Homo sapiens: one gene and its partner. The protein of the gene in region 1 purifies or fractionates together with the protein of each later gene. This does not show direct contact. Each region holds a gene or a part of one and is shown in the gene's direction. Other genes may lie near its edges. The genes, in order: COL23A1 and PLOD2.

Region 1 (3,824 bases):
GTAGGGGAGGGAGAGTAAGGGGAGCGAGACCCCTCTGAGAACAGAGTCTCACCATGTCTCCCAGGCTGGAGTGCAGTGGCACAACCTCGGCTCACTATAAGCTCCGCAGACCAGCTGCCACCTGCTCACCAGACTCTGCCCTCTGGGGGGCAGGAAGGAGACTCTCGATCCAGCAGTGTGCGATGAGCTCGGGTGCGGGTAGGTGAGGGTGACAGGCGGTGGGTGACTAACCTGTCTCTCACCCTCCCTAGGCTCAGCTCATAGTGGAGCCAGGGCCCCCTGGCCCCCCTGGCCCCCCAGGCCCGATGGTAAGGACGGTTTGCTTTGGTTTGGTTTGAAGCAGCCAGGAAACCAAGAGGCGGGGTGGGGGCTAGGTCCCAGAGCCATGACCCAGGAGAGAGCGGGCTTCTTCGTTCAGGGAGGGGCACATGGGCAGAGGGCAGAGCCCAGGACAGGGCCCCAGGGGCCAGTGAGTGGCCACTGCAAGAGGGTCCGGAGCCAGCCTTCTTATCTGCTTCCTCCTCCTGCAGGGCCTCCAGGGAATCCAGGGTCCCAAGGTGAGTGGGCACAGACCCCTCTACTGGCCTCAGACTCACCGTCTGGGCAGTTTCCAAGAGCCTTGCCAATGGGCAAAGCAAAGGGCCTGACGCTCCGCCCTGGCCCATCCCTGAGTCTTCCCAGCGCCTGAACGTCCCAAGTCCCCAGGGCATAACCTCCCCGATGTCGTTGAGGCCAATGCCCCCCTCTCCACCCTTGAGGCTCTCCTCTCCCACTTTCTCCCTCTGCCCGGGACCCCAGTCTGTCCCTCTCTCCTCCTCAGGTCCACCACCGTTTCCACTGCTTGTCCCCTTCTCCTTTGTCTGTGCCTGTCAGTTCCTTGCACTGTCCCCACCTCTCCCCATCCCAGCCCGCCCCACACACATCTGTCTCTCAGCTGCCACAGTCTAAGCACAAAGTCTTGGGCTTGGTGTATATTACATGATGGCGTGTTCCCTGCTCTTACGTTAAGTCCTCGAGTGTGGCCTGCCTGCATGCCCTGCCCCAGGGAGGCAGACACAGAAGGGGAGGCCACCTGGCCTCACTCCTTGTCACACCACCCTCCTGGCGTGAGCAAATCTCTGCTTCCCCAGCTCAGAGGCCAGATGTGGGACTGAGAATCGTGGAAGCCCAGGCCCGAGCCTGCAGCCCCACCAGGTGCTCTGCTTCTGGTTCTGCTTTCTCTTAAGGCCACCACAGTTCATGTTTCAAAGAGGCAGCTGCTATCAGGACAGGGTCCAAGGCTTGCCGTAGAAGCCTGATGGGGACCCAGCTCTGCTGCCTCCCGCTGTGTGGCTGGGCCTGTCCCCCCCCCCCCGCCCCCCGTCTGCACCTGCTTTCCTCATCTTTGGAATGGGTGTGACCGTAATCACCTTCCATGGGGCTGAGGGAGCCTGTTCTGGAAAAGGCGCAATGCGCATGGCCAGAGCTCCTCCTGATCACCCTCACCAGGGAGTAAGCTGGGGCCAGGCCTGGGGGAGCCTCGATCTGTTCCTCTGTCCACATCCCAGCTCCCTTGCAGTCTCCAAGCTTGCCTGTCCTACTGTCTGTCTAACCCCTTCCCCTTGACTGATTTCCCTCCTTTGCCTCCAGGGCTTGGATGGAGCAAAGGGAGAGAAGGGTGCGTCGGGTGAGAGAGGCCCCAGCGGCCTGCCTGTGAGTCTCACAAGCGTTGTTTGTCCCAAAGGTGTTAATTCCTGTCACTAGCATGCCTCTTGACTCATTCCTTTTCTATCCAGGGGCCAGTTGGCCCACCGGGCCTTATTGGGCTGCCAGGAACCAAAGGAGAGAAGGTAACCGCCTCATTCGGAACTCCCTCTCCAACCGTGGCCACCTGGTCATGGTGGCGCTCAGCCCGGGGACCCCAACCCTGTACCTCACTGGGTCCCTGCACTTCGCAGGGCCAGAGTTCAGGCTCTGTGGATGCCAGGTCTGTCCTGGCCTCCATCTATGCCTGCGTGGTTGGTGGGTCTCCTTGCCCCCATGTCTGTGGCCAACCCACAGGGCTGGACTTCCCAGCAGCTGTGCTCCCAGCACCCCTCCCCAACCCCTCTCACCCACTCTGTGTCTCTCCTCAGGGCAGACCCGGGGAGCCAGGACTAGATGTAAGTGTCTTATCATCACTTTGAGTAATTGGGTGCCTCTTGTGTGTATCTTCTGCCCTCATGCAGTAACCTGATCTGGCTACTCAAGTGTGACCCCTTTCCCCAGGGCTGGGACTGCAACTGACTGGTTCCCCCTGTGTCCCCATTGCCAAGTCCAGTGCACGACCCAGAGTAGGTCCTTTGTGGATAGATGAATGGATTGTTGATGGATGGATAAATGGATGGATACATTGGTAGATGGAGGATGGATGGACAATGGAGGATGAATCGATGGATGGATGAATGCATAATGCAGGATTGATGGATGGATGGATAAATGGATGGATGGGTGGATGGATGGGTGAATGGATGGATGAATGAATGGATGGATGGGTGAATGGATGGATGGGTGAATGGATGGATGGGTGATGGATGAGTGGATGATGGGTGGGTGGATGATGGGTGGGTGGATGATGAATGGATGATGGATGGATGGGTGGGTGGATGGATAATGGAAGAATGATGGATGAATGGATGGAGGATTGAATGGACTCATCCATCCATTCATCTATCTATCCACTATGGATGGATGGATGGATGGATGGATAATAGATGAATGATGGATGGATGGATGGATGGATGGATGGATGGATGGATGGATGATGATGGCAGTGGAGGGATGGATGGATGGATGATGGATGATAGATGATGAGTGGATGGGTGGGTGGATGGATGGATGGATGGATGATAGATGATGAGTGAATGGATGGATGATGATGGCAGTGGAGGGATGGAGGGATGGACGGATGGATGGATGATAGATGATGAGTGGATGGATGGATGATGATGGCAGTGGAGGGATGGATGGACGGATGGATGGATGATAGATGATGAGTGGATGGATGGATGGATGATAGATGATGAGTGGATGGATGGATGATGATGGCAGTGGAGGGATGGATGGATGGATGGATGATAGATGATGAGTGGATGGATGGATGATGATGGCAGTGGAGGGATGGATGGATGGATGGATGATGCATTGTAGCAAGGAAGTGAAGAGAGCAGTGAGGAGCCTGTTGCAATATCCTGGTGACAGATAATAGGGCTTTAGCTAGAGCAGTAATTTGAGAAGAAGAGGAAGGGAAGTATTAGCCCAGGCTGATTATGTCAAGTCTCTTCTGGTAGCATACATAGAAAACATAGTTTAAACTGGCTTAAAATTACTCATAACTGAAAAATCTGGAGGTTCAACACATGGATCCAGGGCTCAACTGTGTCAACACAACTCAGCCTTTCACCCTGTCTTGTCTGCTTTCCCTGTGGAAATCAAGTTCCACGTGGTGGTGAGGTAAAGCCAGCAGCTCGAGACCAGCATCCTGCCAGGCCCAAACTAAGAAGAAAGAAAATTTGACTCCAGAGTAGAACTCCAGTGTTCTACAGGAAGTTTCATGGGCTCTCCCTGGTCCCAGTTAGGTCAACGCTGAACTGTCACTTAGCCATAGGAATGCAGTGCCCTGACTAGTGAGACCATGGACTGGGGTGGAATCAATGGGTTATGAGAAGGAGGTTGTTCTCAGGAAAATCAGGTAGCTATTTTGAGGGACATAGGCCCAGATGCAGGGCTGCAAGGACTCTGGTGCCCACCCTAGACTTTAAAAAGAGAACATTACCGGCCAGGCACGGTGGCTCACACCTGTAATC
Region 2 (3,824 bases), on another chromosome or scaffold:
TTACTGTTGAACTAGTTATCACTTCACAGTGTCTGTTTGCTCATTTAACTCAATTGAAATGGGAAAAAGACACCATGTATATCAGCTTACAATGATACTAAGTTTGTTTGTCAATACTACTGCTAATACTAATAATACCATTTTTACTACTCCTGCTAAGACCTCACCTTTAACAAGTGCTTATTAAGTGCCAGGTATTGTTGTAAGTACATGTATTAACACAATTATTTCTCATAATAAATAGAATGTTTAGCGGGTGAAATGTTAGAATGATTGTTTTTATTTTGTTAAGTAAGATACATGGGAAATGTAGTATGCTTTATTAACCCACCCTATATATAATATCTATCTATATATATATATCACTAGAATTTGTAAATTTGAGAATTTAGTTCTTACTTCAAAAATCTAAGACCTCTCTGTAGCAACCTGTATATACAGCCCAACTGTATAGCTGTGTTATAGATACTCAGTATCTAAGTTAACTATCTATATACATCGTAGGTAATTTTCCAAAGCATATGAATGAGGTTTTGATCATTTGGCAAGGAAAAGCAGTTGTGACACCCTAGAGATATGAAATAGTGTATGATTTGTAACTCTTAAAACCTAGTTTAATTCAGTACTATTTTCTTGAATTTGCATTGTTTTCTCTTAATTTGATTGAAATGCTATAGTGTGTAATGCCCATATGCTTTTTAATAATTAGATATTTTCATTTTATGACTATAATTTATATATTTATTAATTATTCTCTTAGTGAACTATTTAATGAATTTACACTATGTATTTGACATATATCCCTCTTAATATTAAACATTTTAAATCTTCTAAAAGAAAAAAAATTCCCGGCCGGGTGTGGTGGCTCACGCCTGTAATCCCAGCACTTTGGGAGGCCAAGGTGGGTGGATCACGAGGTCAGGAGATCGAGATCATCCTGGCTAACACAGTGAAACGCCATCTCTACTAAAAATACAAAAAATTAGCCGGGCGTGGTAGCGGGCACCTGTAGTCCCAGCTACTCGGGAAGCTGAGGCAGGAGAATGGTGTGAACCCAGGAGGTGGAGCTGGCAGTGAGCCAAGATTGCGCCACTGCACTCTAGCCTGGGCGACACAGCGAGACTCCGTCTCAAAAAAAAAAAAAAAAAAAAAAGAAAAAGACTTACCTGCCATCTGGGGCCCTTGCCCCTTAAAGAGTAAAACTCAGGCTGTGTCTCCATGGAATTCTGTTAGTTAATCAAAGGTTTAGGTTTATGTAATACCTATGGTTCTTGCTTCTGTATCTAGACATGTGGTTTCTATAGTCTATTGACATATGCCAGGAATGTTGCAAGATTTAGTAGATTGGACTGAAGAGTAGAGAAAGAGATTTGACACATCTTGGGCATGTGGCTTTCTACCTTCTCATCAGCTCTCTTTTTTCCTCTTCTCTCCCTATCTCTATTTGCTCCCTTGCTCTAAATTTTACTCCTTAAATTGTATAATAATATGAATCATTCCTCAGCTGCCATCCTTACATTTTTATTCACAAAAACATTGAGGTATACAGCAGATGAATTTTGGTTTCCCAAATTTGTTGGTTTAAACCTTTTCAGGAGGCAGCTGGGATTATAAATTACAAGTTCTTTTTAAATTAAATGTTTGATATTCATATTGAATTATTTCCCAAATTAATGTATGTAGATTCTAATTCATGTTATTATTTCCAGTATTGTAGGTATTCAAAACAAAACAAAACATGTGTTTCTGATTAATAGTTTAGTAGGAATTCGGAAGAATAAACCAAAATTTATTATTTTGCATGATGTGTATTTATTTTTATTTATTTATTTTTTTGAGATGGAGTCTTGCTCTGTCGCCCAGGCTGGAGTGCAGTGGCATGATCTTGGCTCACTGCAACCTCCGCCTCCCGGGTTCAAGCGATTCTCCTGTGTCAGCCTCTTGATTAGCTGGGATTATAGGTGCGTGCCACCATGCCTGGCTAACTTTTTTTGGTATTATTAGTAGAGATGGGATTTCACCATGTTGGTCAGGCTGGTCTCAAACTCCTGACCTTGTGATCCGCCCGCCTCGGCTTCCCAAAGTGCTGGGATTACAGGCATGAGCCACTGCGCCGGGCCCGATGTGTGTTTATTTATTTCACTTTTGTGCATGTAATAGAAAGGGCCCGGCTGGTCTTCACAAGATAGAGGTGAAATAGGTTTTCTTTTTTCATATAAAGAATAGTTGTTCCATAAATTTGCTTTCTAAAATAGTTAAAGGAAAGTTCAGTGTTGCCAGGACTAGCTTACTGTAATCACAAGTCATTTTTTAAAGTCATGGAAAACTGGAAACATACTTAAGTAATTTGAGACTTAATTACAGGAAAGCTTTGCCTGTTTACAAACATCTCAGTTCATCTTCATTCATTTTTTACAAATTCAACAAATATTCATTGAATATCTTAAATGCACCAGGGGCTGTTGTTCACCCAGTGACAATGAAAATATTTGGTTTCATTTAATATAGGTTCCGAAATACTTTAGTTAAACTTAAATATAATTAAATAACTAAAGTAGTTTCCCTCTGTTGGATGTAAGCAAGGCATTTTTAAAAGTCATTTTTATGTATTCATTAGCATTTTCAATTACTTTTTCCTTCTTTGTTACTCTTTTTAAGAAATATGATTGAAAATTAGCAATATACTTACTTAAGAAAAGATGTTGGGAAAGAAGATCCTTATTTTATTTTTATTAACTACAGGTTTGTTGAATGAGCTTTCTTGTGTTATATGTCATACTAAGCCCAAAATACATAATTCTGTGGTAATTTAAAAATAAATAATTATATAGGTTTCTCTCTCTCACACACACTCTCTCTGTCTTTAGAAAGATCATTGCTCCTCTTGTAACTCGTCATGGAAAGCTGTGGTCCAATTTCTGGGGAGCATTGAGTCCTGATGGATACTATGCACGATCTGAAGATTATGTGGATATTGTTCAAGGGAATAGAGTGTAAGTTACTTGGTTTAATATTTTAATGTGAAATACCATAATCTAAAGATGTAGTCTTGTTAGTATTACTTGAAATTTTTTTTGCATTCATCTCTTTTCTTTATAGTTAATGGGAATTTGAGAACCCAAGACCACTTGGAATCCTGAAATACTAGTATAAAACTAATATCTTAAAAAAATGTTTTTAAAGTCCCAAATCTTCAAAGGAACAAGCTCATTGCTGTGGGGAATACTAAGAGATAATATATGTTTACCATACTCACATTATGGTTGATAGAAGAGTAATACTCTTTATTTAAAAGCTTGGAAAGGGGATTTAGTTTACTAACTTTTTAATGGTTATAATTAAGGGTTGTTTTGATAGGTTTTAAAATTTATAATTAAGCCAACAGTAACACTAACAGCCAGAACATTCCAGTATTCCTGATTGCATGAGTTTTTTTGTGTGAAATAGCTATTATTCTGCTTTAAATACAAGTTTTTTTTACCAATATTAGATTTTCACTTCTAGAGATTGAAAAGAATATATTTGCTGAAAAGTGTGTGCATGATTTATATTTATTTCAGAGACAATGGTTGATTACTAAAAATAATCACAATTGAAATAGTTTTGCTAAGGTAATATTGGAGAAGAATGTCATTCTTTTTTTCATACATATGATGGACCAGAGTGACTAAGACATTACATGCTTTGCCTTAGTTCTCAAACATGTCAGCCTGATTAAAAAGGGGCAGTATACTCTCAGGACTAAAAGGATGTGCCCTTACATTTAGAAAAAAAAAGGCACACGTTTCTGTTCAAACAGTTGAGTGGTAAAAAGATGTGTTGCT

The links.
Region 2: the proteins of COL23A1 (region 1) and PLOD2 purify together in Homo sapiens (affinity purification with mass spectrometry; one large-scale study listed by BioGRID and IntAct). This does not show direct contact.

The regions. Positions count from the first base shown.
Region 1 is NC_000005.10:178,244,259-178,248,082, reverse strand, and holds part of COL23A1 (collagen alpha-1(XXIII) chain), read left to right. Parts: intron 1-251; coding exon 252-308; intron 309-530; coding exon 531-557; intron 558-1,629; coding exon 1,630-1,692; intron 1,693-1,775; coding exon 1,776-1,829; intron 1,830-2,114; coding exon 2,115-2,141; intron 2,142-3,824.
Region 2 is NC_000003.12:146,080,907-146,084,730, reverse strand, and holds part of PLOD2 (procollagen-lysine,2-oxoglutarate 5-dioxygenase 2 isoform 1 precursor), read left to right. Parts: intron 1-2,867; coding exon 2,868-2,993; intron 2,994-3,824. UniProt on the Homo sapiens protein: Forms hydroxylysine residues in -Xaa-Lys-Gly- sequences in collagens. These hydroxylysines serve as sites of attachment for carbohydrate units and are essential for the stability of the intermolecular collagen cross-links.